2 separate regions of the Homo sapiens genome follow, and region 1 is linked to region 2. The links come from fine-mapping of genetic effects on gene expression. Tissue or cell type: sigmoid colon. Region 2 holds a variant in brackets; the other region holds the start of a gene. All regions are shown on one strand. Distances are from middle to middle.

Region 1 (7,645 bases), 65 kb before region 2:
CTACCAATGACTCTCTTCACAGAATTGGAAAAAAATACTTTAAAGTTCATATGGAACCAAAAAAGAGCCCACATTGCCAAGTCAATCCTAAGCCAAAAGAACAAAGCTGGAGGCATCATGCTACCTGACTTCAAACTATACTACAAGGCTACAGTAACCAAAACAGCATGGTACTGGTACCAAACAGAGATATAGACCAATGGAACAGAACAGAGCCCTCAGAAATAATGCCGCATATCTACAACTATCTGATCTTTGACAAACCTGACAAAAACAAGCAATGGGGACAGGATTCCCTATTTAATAAATGGTGCTGGGAAAACTGGCTAGCCATATGTAGAAAGCTGAAACTGGATCCCTTCCTTACACCTTATACAAAAATTAATTCAAGATGGATTAAAGACTTACATGTTAGACCTAAAACCATAAAAACCCTGGAAGAAAACCTAGGCGTTACCATTCAGGACATAGGCATGGGCAAGGACTTCATGTCTAAAACACCAAAAGCAATGGCAACAAAAGACAAAATTGACAAATGGGATCTAATTAAACTAAAGAGCTTCTGCACAGCAAAAGAAACTACCATCGGAGTGAACAGGCAACCTAGAGAATGGGAGAACATTTTTGCAACCTACTCATCTGATAAAGGGCTAATATCCAGAATCTACAATGAACTCAAACAAGTTTACAAGAAAAAAACAAACAACCCCATCAAAAAATGGGTGAAGGATATGAACAGACGCTTTTCAAAAGAAGACATTTAGGCAGCCAAAAAACACTTGAAAAAATGCTCATCATCACTGGCCATCAGAGAAATGCAAATCAAAACCACAATGAGATACCATCTCACACCAGTTAGAATGGCAATCATTAAAAAGTCAGGAAACAACAGGTGCTGGAGAGGATGTGGAGAAATAGGAACACTTTTACACTGTTGGTGGGACTGTAAACTAGTTTAAGCATTGTGGAAGTTAGTGTGACGATTCCTCAGGGATCTAAAACTAGAATTACCTTTTGACCCAGCCATCCCATAAATGGGTAGATACCCAAAGGATTATAAATCATGCTGCTATAAGGACACATGCACACGTATGTTTATTGCGGCACTATTCACAATAGCAAAGACTTGGAACCGACCCAAATGTCCATCAATGATAGACTGGATTAAGAAAATGTGGCACATATACACCATGGAATACTATGCAGCCATAAAAAATGATGAGTTCATGTCCTTTGTAGGGACATGGATGAAGCTGGAAACCATCATTCTCAGCAAACTATCGCAAGGACAAAAAACCAAACACCGCATGTTCTCACTCATAGGTGGGAATTGAACAATGAGAACACATGGACAAAGGAAGGGGAACATCACACACTGAGGACTGTTGGGGGGTGGGGGGAGTGGGAAAGGATAGCATTAGGAGATATACCTAATGCTAAATGACGAGTTAATGGGTGCAGCACACAAACATGGCACATGTATACATATGTAACAAAACTGCACGTTGTGCACATGTACCCTAGAACTTAAAGTATAATAATAATAAAATTTTTAAAAAAGAAATTAGGCTTATCTCATGAAACTGACAAATCAAACAAAACACAGCCTAATTTCACTTTTAATATATTTTATAAAAATCTAACACGTCATCTGAAGAATAAAAGGATAAATATCAAAGTTTAGATTAATTGTAGTATACATTAAAATCATCTACAATTAAACTATTAAAACCATAAAATTTAAATTTTTATAACGTTTCTGTATTATTTCTATGTATCTATTCTTCTTTAGCTTTATATTTTACCTTTACTGCCTTATTAATATTTTTGTCTGATAACATCATGTGGGAACATAGTAGGCCTGGGATTGGGTAGCTTCATTTGACAAGTTACATTGAAAGGGGATGGCTACCACATATCCAGTGAGACACTCTAATTCCTTAGCAGGCTAGATTTAGGCTCCCTCACAAATATCTAGAAACAGTACTTAATTAGTTAGCACATGCCATCCTATTCACTTTGAGAATTCGTGTTTAGGATCCTCTTAGAGTCTTAGAGAAATCAAATCCATATTGTGTTAGCCTCATGCAATGAGAAGAGGAAGAAATAATGGGAAGATGTAACAAGCAGGCGACTGAAAAATGAAATAAAATGACAGCAAATCAGCTATTTTGAGGATTTGGGGATTTTAAAACTATCTGCAGTATTGGTTTCAATGAGTGAATTTACTTTGTCTGAAAGGATTTTAGCAAAAAGTTGTGTTTTGATTGCAGCGATGAATAAATTAAAAGTCAAAATAAATCAATTATCTCCTAACTTCTCTAATCTCTATGAAATCAAGGAAGTCTTTATATACAGACATACAGAAAAATCATTTGTCACCATTCACAAAAATATTAAGAAAATGGTTGTAACAATTACCTAAATGGCTAGCTTTCTTATTATTGATTCTGCTGTACATTGTTTTTTAAGACTCTAAGAGCACATAATTTCTAACATCATTTTTTCCCTTATAGGGAATCTGTTGTTTTATTTACTACAAGTAGACTTAACATCTTATAGATGTTAAGAGTTTCGGGATGCCTCTAATCACCCCAGTACCTCCCTGACTAACCAAACTTGGCCTATTCTTCAGTGAGTCATGATGCTGGGGAAGAGCTCCTTGCCCAACCACAACAAACATTCTTCAGTTAACTGCTATTTACTGATCCACTAATGAATGTTTGGGCAAGGACCTTGGTCAGTGCTTTTCAAAGTTCAGTGAACCTAAGAATCACCAGGGGCGCACATTAAATATATAGATTGCTGCCCCCTCATTCTAATTTACTGGGTCTGAAGTGGGGCCTGGGAATTCACATTTTAAATAAGGATACCAAGTAAATCCCATGATAAAGTCACCTGGAGACAAAACTCTGAAAGTGATGCTGACTTGGGAAGCGGAAAATGTTGAGGATCTCTTTAATACAGTGCAAAATGTCTATGAGAAGAATGATGAATTCAAAGGTTTAGTTGGAAGCAGTTGACCTTTGAATCTGGAATAAGCTTCACCGATGAAGTTAAGATGGCCAAAAAAGCAGCAGCAGATGAAAATTGTCATGAGCTCCCCTCCTCAGCCCATTCTACATTTAGCCCTATAGACTAGCAGTACTGCCTTCCCTTTCTCTATCATCCTCCATATTCACATAGAGTCTGGACATATATTGAAGATTGTCATCACATAGATTTATAGTTGGGGACCAGATTTCAATTCATGCTAGATAAGTTGAAAACATTATGGAAAATTGATCTAGATAAAAAATAATTTGAAAACAAAAAGAAAGCTGAAGACAGAGAAAAAGCCTGAGCCTGGAGTGAGGCCAAGATCCTGAACATGCCAGGGAGGAATTAATGGAGAGGGAGGTAGAGAGGTCTTCACTTTGCTGCTGTCAGTTGGACATTCCATCCAACTGCCCCTGAAGTGCATTCCAGTCCACTGAGCATGCTCAGTTCATATGACTGATTTTCACTAAGTGTAACAATCAACGAGTTCACCATAAAGCCTTTCCCAACATCAGGACAGTAAAGCAACTACTGAAAACCATTCCTGAATTTGTGATCAATGGACTCAAGTTTAGGGAGAGGAGCACCTTTGGTCTGCAACAATGGTTTGAATCCCAGTCTCTAATTACTTCTTTCCCAAATACTCTGGTCACCAAAGGGACAATATTTGGTGAGATGCAGCCATTTTGTTGGTTAGCAGGAGTTCAGACGCAAGACAATGTCATAGTGGTAGAATACAGTATCAACTTCAACAGCAAGCCCATCTCTGGAAGCTCCCAGACCATTGTGCCAATCAAGTGGAGGAGGCACTTTCATTTAGAGAGGCTTATGTGAACCTTATATGAGAAACTTGCCAACCTGCCTCTTTGATTTTTTAGCCTTACTATTTCTAATACTTAGGTGCTATCTTTTAGAGACCCTGAAACAGCCAAGACATGACACTTAGTACAGAGGAATCCATAGGTAAGCATCATCAGATCCTGAGAAGCCAAGGCTCTTCCCTGTGTTTTGTTTCTGTGGAATTATAAGTATATATGAGGGCTGGGAGTGGCGCGTCATTGTGGGAGGACTGTACACCTCAAAGGATTTATGAAATGGTATGCTAAATACATAATAAAATCATGCTGATTGTGAAGGACCAATAATAGACTGGAAGCCTAAGAGATGGTTGTGCTTTAAAATTTAGAGTCTACCTGAGGAGAAAGTGGCTACATATCAAAGAAAGGCAGTTTGTTATTTAATTTTAAATACTAGAAGAGTCCTTTGGAAGTATTTCTCCCAATTTCCAGGTATGGCTGCCTTTCTACTTTGCCAAAAAGATTGCCCTAAATGAGTATGTTGTTTGGTGTGGAGGTTAATAAGAAATCTTCATCTCCAAAAGTATTTCTCCTACCAACTTGCCATGTAGCTTGAAATTGCTCAATTCCTTTGACTCAATTTTTTTTCCAGTTTTCTAGAGTGCTTTATTCAAAAACATATATTCCTAGAAAATGCAAGTCAAACACATTTAGGTCATTGTCAGAAAACAGGAAGCCTTCATTAGCATGTGACCAAAAGAGGGAGTTGGCAGGCACAGGAGAATAGGTGGAGTTGAAAAGGGTATGGAAAAAGAAGATGGGAGAGGTATTGAGGGGAGGACCAGTGAAAAATAAACAGCTATGTTGCACCCCTGCCTTCTAATGCTTAAGTCAGGAGTGAGAAATTCACCTCATTGACTCTGAGAGCTAAATCCTGCAAGAGAGAATTTACAAGGCAATGCCCACTTGCCTGGAGGGATACATAGGAATCCGGCATCTTTTATCTTCCCTTTCACATTTGATTCAGGTTTCAAAAATAATAATAACTTAGCATCTGCTAGTTTCATTTATGTCATGGATATGAATAAAACAGTTCCTGCCATCAAAGAGCTAGCAGTCAAGGGAGAGAGAGAGAGAGAGGATAAATGAATGAATGAACTTTCTGTGTTGATTACAAAATAATTAACAGGAGGGCATTTCAGCATATATTTCAATTCATATTTTTCTGTACGTTTTAGAGATGTTTGGGGATATTAACCTCACTCTTGGCATGCTGAACAAGGAAGATATTGTTAACAAGGTAGGGAAAACAGAGAAAAATCTTTTTCCCTTTTTCAGTCTTCTTGTTGCAACATTTCGTATATATTTTTCTTTGTCTCAACTTTCTCATTTTTCTCTGGCTTGTTACATGGCATTAGATTTTTCAGTAAATGCAGTTGTAATGAAAGTCATTGTAATGTTTAAGCAATGATATTTGGCATTTCAAGAATCACAGCATCTATGTCTAGAAAATAGCAAAAAAAAAGTTCCTTTTTATAACTTTATACAGGCAGATGTTGAAAGGTGTATGTCAGACTTACAAACATGTGGATGAGACTGTTTCTTTTATAATTTGAGGGTTGTTACAAAAATCCCAAAAGCTCTTCCCTGCTCATCTATAATGCTATTTCACAGCTAGAAGTTTACCTAAGAATTGAAGGCTTTTCACATTTCAACAACCTTTTATAAAATAAAAGAAATAACTGCCCTTCATCGAACACTTATCTGGGAAGTAAAATGCTAGATATTTTCCAAACAACAGTGTATTGTATAATATTCACTCCTCAGAACAATTTTATCAGGTAGTTATTGCTATTTCCATTTGATAACTGAGAAAAAATTAGGCAGAGAGAAGTTACATGACTTGCTCAACTAAGAACAACAGGACTATATCCAAAAGCAAGCCCATCTGACTCCAAAAAAAAATGTTCCTAATCATTATTCAGTGTTGTCTCCTTGTGAAGGGCAGTGCCTATACCTTTATCTCTTAATTCAGTGGTTCTCAACCCTGACCATATATTAGAATCCCTTAGAGAGTTTTGGGAAAATATCAACACCCAGGCCCTACTACCAGGGATTCTGATTGGATCAGTCTGTGAAAAGCTTGGGCATTTTAAGCACCTGGAGGTAATCCAAACATTTAGGTACGGTTGAAAACCATTACATTAATCTCTCAGTAGAAGTCACCTTTCCGAAAGAACACTATTTCTCAAACATTGGGAATCACTTAAGAGAATAACCTCCGGATCCCAGAAACATTGAAGGAGAATTTCCAGTAAAGGGATCAGAGAATATATATTTTTAACAAGCACTTCCTAGTTATTTTATGATGAGTCTAGTTAAAGAATAATAATAGCCAGCATAACCAAGAGGTTAAGGTGCCAGCTAAAATTCAGACTGTTGGTTTCAAATTGTAGCATCAGTACGTAACACTAACTACATTAAGCTCCCTGGGACTCAATTTCCTCATCTATAAAATGAATATATTTGTGGTACCTAAGACAGGGACTTGTGAGCGTTAATAAAATGCTCCAGATAATGAGTCTGGCACAGTTCCAGGAATGTGGTGAGAGCTCCATAAATGGTAGCCTTGCCAAAGAACAAGGCCTGCAGACAGGATAGTAAGCACATGGAGCAAGAAAAGGACTCACAGAGATAGTTAGGCAGGCCCAGAAAATACAGGGAAGAAAGCAAAGAAAAATTATGCATTATTCTCAGACTTCCCAAGGACCAGCCCTGAGGAGTAATGCAAAGGATGCTATTTAACAACTTAAGCATGGGTGGAGTGGCTGGAGGTGCATGTTGAAGCTGTTGGAGATTTCAGTACACCAGTCTCTCTTTCATCATCCAGAGGACACATAGCCACCTAAAAGATTTACAATTCCTCACACAGGGCATCTAGTCAAGCCACACAACTGGAGGCCCTGTCTAAAATGTCCACAACTTTCTGTCTGCAGAGGCATGAATGAAACAAGGGCCTGTAAATGTCCCTTAGGATCCAGTTTCATAGCCTAGCAGCCTCTTGGGGAGTTACAGTGTGTTCCCTAGTACCATATCACTCCCTGATAGTAAGGGCAGCAATTAAGCTGACAGGCATTTCCATTCCCCTGAGTGTCCCACAACAGTGATTTTCAAAAGACATGGAATGGCAGGTAGCCTCTCCTGGTTGTCAATTAGATCTTGCCATAGAAATATAGCCAAGTTAAAATAGTTTTTAGAATTGACTTTGCTCTGTAGCCTTTGACTCCTAAAGATGCATGTTATGTTCAGAAAGCCTCAATTAAAGCCAGGCACGGTGGCTCATGCCTGTAATCCCAGCACTTTGGGAGACCGAGGCAAGTGGATCACCTGAGGTCAGGAGTTCGAGACCAGCGTAGCCAACATGGCAAAAACCCCGTCTCTACTAAAAATACAAAAATTATTCGGGCATGGTGGCACACACCTGTAATCCTGGCTACTCGGGAGGCTGAGGCAGGAGAATCAGTTGAACCCAGGAGGCAGAGGTTGCAGTGAGCTGAGATCATGCCATTGCACTCCAGCCTGGCCAAAAAGAGCAAAACTCCATCTTAAAAAATAGAAAAAAAAAAGAAAGCCTCAATTAAGACATATAATATGAAATCCATTGTGTAGTAAAGATATATTGCTTACTTTAATGGTGTTATTCATTAGGATTTCATTTGATTCCTTTATTTTTGCAAGCCAAATTTCTGTGTATGCCTTTGTATATTCACAGGAAGACATTTACAGTCATCTCACTTCTGTTATTCAGA
Region 2 (7,645 bases):
TTAATGTTTGACTTGGCTTTTTTCTCTTTAGCTATTGGAGATCTTAGGCACAATCTACCATCACATGCCAGTCCTCAGACAAAAAGAAGAAAGTTTTCAGTTCATTCTAGAAGCCATCTCCCAGATAGCCAGCTTTCACATGGATACAGTTGTTGTCAACCTTTTACAGAAGCCTCTGCCTTTTGACAGGTAGATCCTTATTGAACTGATTCCTTCTCCTAGGGAAGGCCACTCTGAAAGGCACTGGGGAGGGATTTACGGTTTGAGAGCAAGATAGCAAACAAAGGTTGAAAATAGCTCATCTGAATAACAATTTAACAATTGGTATTTGAATCACAAGTAATGTTTTTCCAAGTGCTTTTCATATATATAAGATATATATGTATTGCATAATAATATTTTTAACAATATGCCATAGGAATAAGAGAATATTAAAAAGTGAATATTCTCCTCTTTCTGGTGGCCTAGAATGCACCTACATGAGAGGTTCCCATCTTAGTGGACTTTAACAAAGTTCTGTAACCCAAGGCTAGAATGCTGAATTGTTATGTAAAACATCTTTCTTATCCCCAGGCATGGCAGCATGTCCATCTGCCCTTGAAATTGTCATTAGTCATAATGTGATTTTAGAGTGAGTCAGATGGAAAAGCTTACAGCCCGAGGGGTTGTGCCTTATCTACCAATTTCCTGCTTTGCCACCCTAGGGACACAAAGACATTGTGGAAGGCGCTGGCTGAAAAGCCAGCCTCCAGTGGGAAACTCTTGCAAGCCTTAATAGACAAACTGGAGACTGAGTTAGAAGATGACATCGCCAGGGTTGAGGCAATTTCAGTGAGTTGGACAGCCTGAACCCATCACTTGCCTGAGACTGCGCCATCTTTATGATCTATCCCCACCTGGAGCTTGGTGCTGTCACATTAATGACACCTCCTTCTTCTCTCATACCCTAACTTTACTCCAGTTTATAGTTGTGGCTCTACTTTTGTCTGTGGCTGATCATTTTTAGAAGCAAATTTCTCATCAACCCCCCAAAAAACCTATGTATCTATATTTCTAGATAAGTCTGTAAGATATCCAAAGGACCCTTTTTGTTGAAAAACCCCAATGCTGAAAACATTTTATTTTACATGACTAGTGTCCCCTGGCAGTCACAGGACTAACATGGCAGGCCCTGAGTTGAGAAATTTCCAGACAATAAACCCTCCCTTTTCTGTGTGTTTTTACTGGTGGAGAAAACAAAGTTGAAAATCAGCCCAGAGAGAAGATGGCCTTGGAGAAAATGAGACTGCCTGACCAAGAGGCCCTTTCTCCCCTCAGGTGGCCTGTGCTATGTATGAAGTGATCTCAATGGGCACCTCTGTCACCGGCTTGTATCCAGAGCTGTTCACTCTCCTCCTGAAGCTGGTTAGCTGCACACTGGGCCAGAAGATGCTCACTTGTCCCTGGAGCCATAGGCGGCATGTGATGCAGCAGGGAGAACAGCAGCAGATCCCAGACCCCTGCAGGTAAACGGCCAATCAGGAAGCATCTTCCACAGTGGTCCTAATCCCAGACTCCAGGAGTGGTGCTGCAGAAGTCAGGGTCTGTGCTTTCTGTCATAGCATCCATTGTCCATGAAGAAACAAGGCTCTACAAGGCTCTACTCTCCCTAAGCCGTGACACCATAGTTCTTCTTGAGCCAGTATCCAGTGTAGCTACACAGAATAGTCACTTAAAGAATAAGGGGCTATGCTTTCTTTCCTAGAGGAACTACTATATTATCTTTGGTTTCTATCATTGAGATCTTTCTAGAGAGGCTGGAATCTTGTGATCTTCAAGGCCACCAGGGAAAAAAGAAAAATAAAAATAAATACCATATTTCATAAATTCTGAGACTTCAGCAATTGAAAAAAAGCAATTTTTTGCATACCATTGAGAAAACAGAAAAGAACTCCAAAGTAAGCAGTGAATCAATGCTTTCTTAAACTTTAAAATTTTTATTCTGTACTTATCAAAAGAACTCTTTTAGGATTATGAAGTATGAATTTTCATTTCATATCCCATCATTCTGTTTCCCTGCATTTTGCATAACTTTTCATTCCAATGTAAAATTATAGTGCAACATTTTTAAAGACACTTTAAACACCGTTTAGTCAACACGTATTAGGTTGGTGCAAAAGTAATTGCTGTTTTTACCATTAAAAGTAATAGTTCCAATAATACGTGTAACTTTACTAAAATGATGGTAATATAAAGAGCTATATCTGAACCAGGCAGCACATGTGAATGTACAGACAATAGCAACTACATCACAAGTACTGTCTGGCCAAGAACAATTGTAACACACATCTACTGCAAGATGCATCCTGATTTCAGAGATCGTGTTTTAGAATCAGTGAAATATGGTATTTTTCACTTTTTATTCTTATGGCCTATTTTTTCTTATGGGGGGAGTGTTGACAAGATTTTGTGGCATTACTTACTGGCCCACATCATCTGCATGTCCCCATGGATCCCAAGGCTAAAATGTGAGCATAGGGCTGCCTGTTTTTCCCTTACACAACATCCCCTAGTCCAGGGGTGGGAAAGCATTGTGAGGAGTGGAAAGGCAAACTTGGGAATTTGCAATTCCCTATAAGGGTCAACTTAGTTTTGTAATGCTGACTGTCTCCTTTAGGCTTTCAACTGCTACTTTAAAATGTTTGCAAGCCCAAGCCATGAGAGAAGGCCTTGCAAAGGAATCTGATGAGGGGGACAACTTATGGACTCTACTCAGCAGTCCTAGTACCCACCACATAGGCGTATGTTCACTGGCCAGGTAATGTGCACTTTTTCTAGAACCAGATACAAAGAAGAAAACAAAAACAAACAAACAAACAAAAGTGCAATACAGGCAACTTCACTGAGCATAATTGATTCACTTAGGACTAATAGTCGAAGGAGGACAAACAGGAAAGAAAGAAAAGGGAATGGGAAGAGATGGTAAGATCAGCCCCACACACACCACTCACCTCAAGAAACATGATTCAGGTGAACATCTTTAGACAAATTACACTTATTTTTTGAAAGAAATATTTAATATTCACATACCTAGAATTCTGTTGAACTTTTTTTAATCAGCTTTTTAAAAAAAATTTTATTTTTTTATTTCAGTAGGTTTTTGGGGAACAGGTGGTGTTTGATTACATGAATAAGTTCTTTAGTGATGATTTCTGAGATTTTGGTGCACCCATCACCTGAGGAGTGTACACTGCACCCAATATGTAGGCTTATCCCTCACCTCATTCCTGCCCTTTCCCCCAAACCCCCAAAGTCCAATGTATCATTCTTATGCCTTTGCGTCCTAATAGCTTAGCTCCCACATATGAGACAGAACATACAATGTTTGGTTTTCCATTCCCAAGTTACTTCACATAGAATAATAGTCTCCAATTCCATCCAGGTTGCTGCAAATGCCATTATTTCACTCCTTTTTATGGCTGAGTAGTATTCCATGGTATATATATACCACATTTTCTTTATCCACTCATTGATTAATGGGCATTTGGGCTGGTTTTATATTTTTGCAATTGCAAATTGTGCTGCTGTAAACATG[T/C]GTGTGCAAGTATCTTTTTTGTATAATGATTTCTTTTCCTCTGGGTAGATACCTAGTAGTGGGACTGTTGGATCAACCGGTAGATCTACTTTTAGTTCTTTAAGAAGCTCCACTGTTTTCCATAGTGGTTGTACTAGTTTGCATTCCCACCAAGAGTGAAAAATTATTCTCTTTTCACGGCATCCATGCCAACACCTTTTTTTTTATTATTATTATTTTATTATGGTCATTCTTGCAGGAGTGAGGTGGTATCGCACTGTGGTTTTGATTTCCATTTCCCTGATCATTAGTGATGTTAAGCATTTTTCCATATGTTTGTTGGCCATTTGTATATCTTCTTTTGAGAATTATCTATTCATGTCCTTAGCCTGCTTTTTGATGGGATTGTTTAGACAAACTGCATTTAAATTGGACAATTGGATAGGCCATTTTAAAATTTAAGCCTTGGTGGGCTTTCATCAAGCATCCCTTTTTTCTTTTTTCTTTTTTCTTTTTTTTTTTTTTGGAGACAGAATCTTACTCTTCGCCCAGGCTGGAGTGTGCAGTGGCGCGATCTCGGCTGACTGCAACCTCTGTCTCCTGGGTTCAAACAATTCTCCTGCCTCAGCCTCCTGAATAGCTGGGACTACAGGAGCACACCACCATGCCTGGCTAATTTTTTGTATTTTAGTAGATACGGGGTTTCACCATGTTGCCCAGGCTGGTCTCGAACTCCTGAGCTCAGGCAATCCACCTGCCTCGGCCTCCCAAAGTTCTAGGATTACAGGCATGAGCCACCACCCCCAGCCAAGCATTCCTTTTTAGACAAATTACTTGCCTGATGAACAAACAGACTAAGATTTCCTCCATTGTTTAGTAAAATATGTCTCTGCTAAAATGTGCATTTTCTAGGAGCATGGCAGTGTGGCAACACGGAGTCATACTGGACATCATGGAACAGCTGCTCTCATCTCTTACCTCCTCCTCGGAGAACTACCGGATAACCGGCGCAGCTTTCTTCTCTGAGGCAAGGGAGAACAGCCCTCAGAGCACACTCACTGGGTCCCCATAGGGTATTTCTCTTATGGTCTGGAGCCCAGTGTGCACTGGAACCAGGGAAGAGAGACTTCAAGGGGGGGGGGGGTTTCATAGAGGAGAGACCAGCTACTGCCAGATATATGGTACCTAAGCAGGGGGTGAGAGAGGAAAATAAACCACCTCACCCACCTCCTGCCCTCTAGTTTGCAGAAGGCAGAGAAAGGGGGACAATAAATCTGTGAGGGATCAAACAAAGCATTGTAGCACTGACGCTTCAAATTCCGGCCTGAAGACTATTCCAGCCAATCCAGAGAAGGAAAACTATCAGTCATTCCTGTTTTCCCTGCCCCATTTTCCATTGAGACTAGACATCTGTTATGCAGGTAACCGGGTTTACATCACCATGCAAGCTTGACCTGTGCGCTGCTCATATCTAGAGCTCAGCTTCAGCAAGGCTTGCTGGTTCACCAGAGGGCTTCCTCCTCCGCTGCACAAGCAGTGGGGTCCTCTCTTTAATTGTACTTGTGATGTCTTTGGCACTCTCCTGAAGGAGGGGCCACGCCCTTAACTAAACGGGAGGAGTGTGTTGATTATTTCAGCTCATGAAGGAACCAATCCTTTGGAAGCATGGGAATCTGCGAAATGTGCTGATCTTGATGGATCAAAGTGCCTGGGACTCCAACGCCACTCTGAGGCAGATGGCCATCCGAGGGCTCGGCAACACAGCATCCGGGGCTCCTCACAAGGTAAAAGGCGTTTTAAGGGGAAATGGTTCATTTAAGTAGAGTTTTGAAATAATGATTTAATAACCCACGCCTAGTTGTTGCATACAAATTAATTGGAAATCCAGATACATTGCTGAAGTGGTAGTCCTTCGGTTGAACTACATGTGACCCTGACAAAATTTCAGTCCTCTTGTCTGAGGACTCCTACCCTCTTCCAGATACGCATAGAACAATTTTCAAGATTAAGAGGTCTTATTTCAAAATAGGTGAAGAAACATAAGCAGTTAATGCTAGAATCTATCATCAGAGGCCTGTATCACCTAGCTCGCACTGAAGTCGTCTGTGAAAGCTTGAAGGCTCTAAAAAAAATCCTGGAGCTGCTGACAGACCGAGACGTGAGCTTCTACTTCAAGGAAATAGTGCTGCAAACAAGGACCTTCTTTGAAGATGTAAGTGAGCCTGTTTAGGAACTTCCCTCCCCAGAAGTGAGTGAACAGAAACAGGTTTAGGTAGTGCTCACAGAAGACATTGTCAGTGTCCCACCCATATTCCTTGGCCTGCCCCAGACAGGTCACCTGCAGACAATCTCTATACAAGCTGTTGGCTTCCTGTATCTCTCTGCCTGAGGGTGCTCTATGGCCTGGCAGTCATGATTGATCTAAGCTAGTTGAGCCAGAATTGTTGGGGGAAGAAATGCCCTAGGAAGGACCCTCAAACAATAAGAAACAAGAGTTTGTAGATAAATTTCCCGGTTTCCTCACCCCTCAGAAAGGGTTGATTGGCTGTTACAGAGATCTTAGGATCCACAGAGTTTAAACTATTTACTGTCTGGCCTTTTAGAGAAAACGTTTGCCAGCTTTTGATGTACTCCATAATCGCAATTTCAAAAAAGATCAGTCAGCAGTCCTAGGCAGAGAAGGGTCATTTTCCTCTATGCCTTCCAGGAAGCACATTTTAGTATTTATTTTTTGGTTATTCATTGCCATCAATGTAAAAATCTATTTTTAACCTAAACCTATTATTTTGTAATCTAAACCTGCTTCCTCATGTAGTATTGTCAGAGGAGATGGAAAACTGCTAGTTGCCTTCTCTAGTGCATTCTTCATAAACATTAAGGCTTTATTTGATTACCTATTTACCTTACAGTCTGCAGACTTGAGAAGTCTTCATTTCTTTCATTATTCATCATAAACCTAATTTTTCTGCTCATTAAATATTTTGCAAGCCTGTGACTGAGTTGGAACTCTAAATGAGGCTCAAGAAGTATTGAATAGAATCTAAGGATATATTACCTCTCAAATCCAACCTTTTCCCATTTCTTTGCTCCATTATTTTTTTTAATTTTGCCCTTCCTGATTTTGGCATGCTAACTATATGAACCTCTAGATTTTAGTCTGTAATATATGCCCACAGCATTCTTCAGTTTCGTATTTTTGCAGTTTTTCTTGTCTATGTGCTAGCCTAGACCTGGCCTTTGAAAACATCTTTCTGCTTGTTTCCAACTATTTCCTCCAATTAACCAATATCACTTTTAGGCCAGGCATGGTGGCTCACGCCTGTAATCCCAGCACTTTGGGAGGCTGAGGCAGGTGGATCACCTGAGGTCAGAAGTTTGAGACCAGCCTGGCCAACATGGTGAAACCCCATCTGTAGTAAAAGTACAAAAATTAGCTGGGTGTGGCGGTGCGCGCCTGTAGTCCCAGCTACTAGGGAGACTGAGACAGGATAATCGCTTGAACACGGGAGGCAGAGGTTGCAGTGAGCCGAGATCATGCCACTGCACTCCAGCCTGGGCAACAAGAGTGAAACTCCATCTCAAAAAAAAAAAAAAAAGCAATTTTTAATTATCTTGTCCTCAAAAATGCTTACTGGGGTAAAAATAACAAAGATATTCTTTTTCTTCGTTGTTCAGGGCTGAAGTCACCCCTTCAGAACCCCAGCTGTTAAGTTTCCTGGATTGTTGTTGATCCAATAATAATTCTCTTAGATCTGAGCCTCCAGTAAATCACAAGTCCACTTAACAATTTAGTGGTCAAGATAATGTTGCCCAGTGTCATCAGAGAAGGATAAAATGTGCTAAAGCCTTGCTGATTGTTAGCTCAGACCTTGCTCATCTCTAATAGGTGTCAACTCCATCACGTTTGCATAAAAGTAAAGTTGGACAAAACTTTGACTCTTATTTGTTCTCCAGTAATGCCATTTTTACATAAGTATATTTAACTCTATGATCTATTGCCCCAATATTTTTATGTAGATTAAGCATAGCTTTCTATAATCTCCAAGTTTTCTTCCTTTGTTTCTTTCAATATTTAAATACTTTCTTAGACTT

Direction of the effects. Alleles are on the strand shown, and positions count from the first base shown. SD is a standard deviation of normalised expression in the study named.
With allele T in place of C in region 2, the expression in sigmoid colon of the gene that starts at base 3,485 in region 1 is lower (moderate effect, 0.63 SD a copy in GTEx).

What was found. PIP is the estimated chance that this variant, and not a neighbour inherited with it, causes the effect.
Region 1: MROH2B starts here. The variant in region 2 is fine-mapped to the expression of MROH2B in sigmoid colon (GTEx, PIP above 0.99).

Annotation. Positions count from the first base shown.
Region 1 is chr5:41,067,182-41,074,826 of GRCh38, reverse strand. It overlaps MROH2B (maestro heat like repeat family member 2B), which reads left to right and starts at 3,485. Exons shown (of 42, transcript NM_173489.5): 1 at 3,485-4,002; 2 at 5,075-5,136; 3 at 7,609-7,645. The coding sequence starts at 3,975. It overlaps LOC105374739 (a long non-coding RNA gene), which reads right to left and starts at 3,470. Exons shown (of 6, transcript XR_001742650.2): 1 at 2,899-3,470.
Region 2 is chr5:41,002,466-41,010,110 of GRCh38, reverse strand. It overlaps MROH2B (maestro heat like repeat family member 2B), which reads left to right. Exons shown (of 42, transcript NM_173489.5): 31 at 32-189; 32 at 705-831; 33 at 1,318-1,505; 34 at 2,657-2,797; 35 at 4,466-4,580; 36 at 5,191-5,337; 37 at 5,583-5,765. Among named protein-coding and RNA genes, the nearest start is that of MROH2B, 65 kb to the left of the region's middle. RefSeq lists an enhancer at 487-1,686. The variant T/C (reference allele first, on the strand shown) is at 3,575.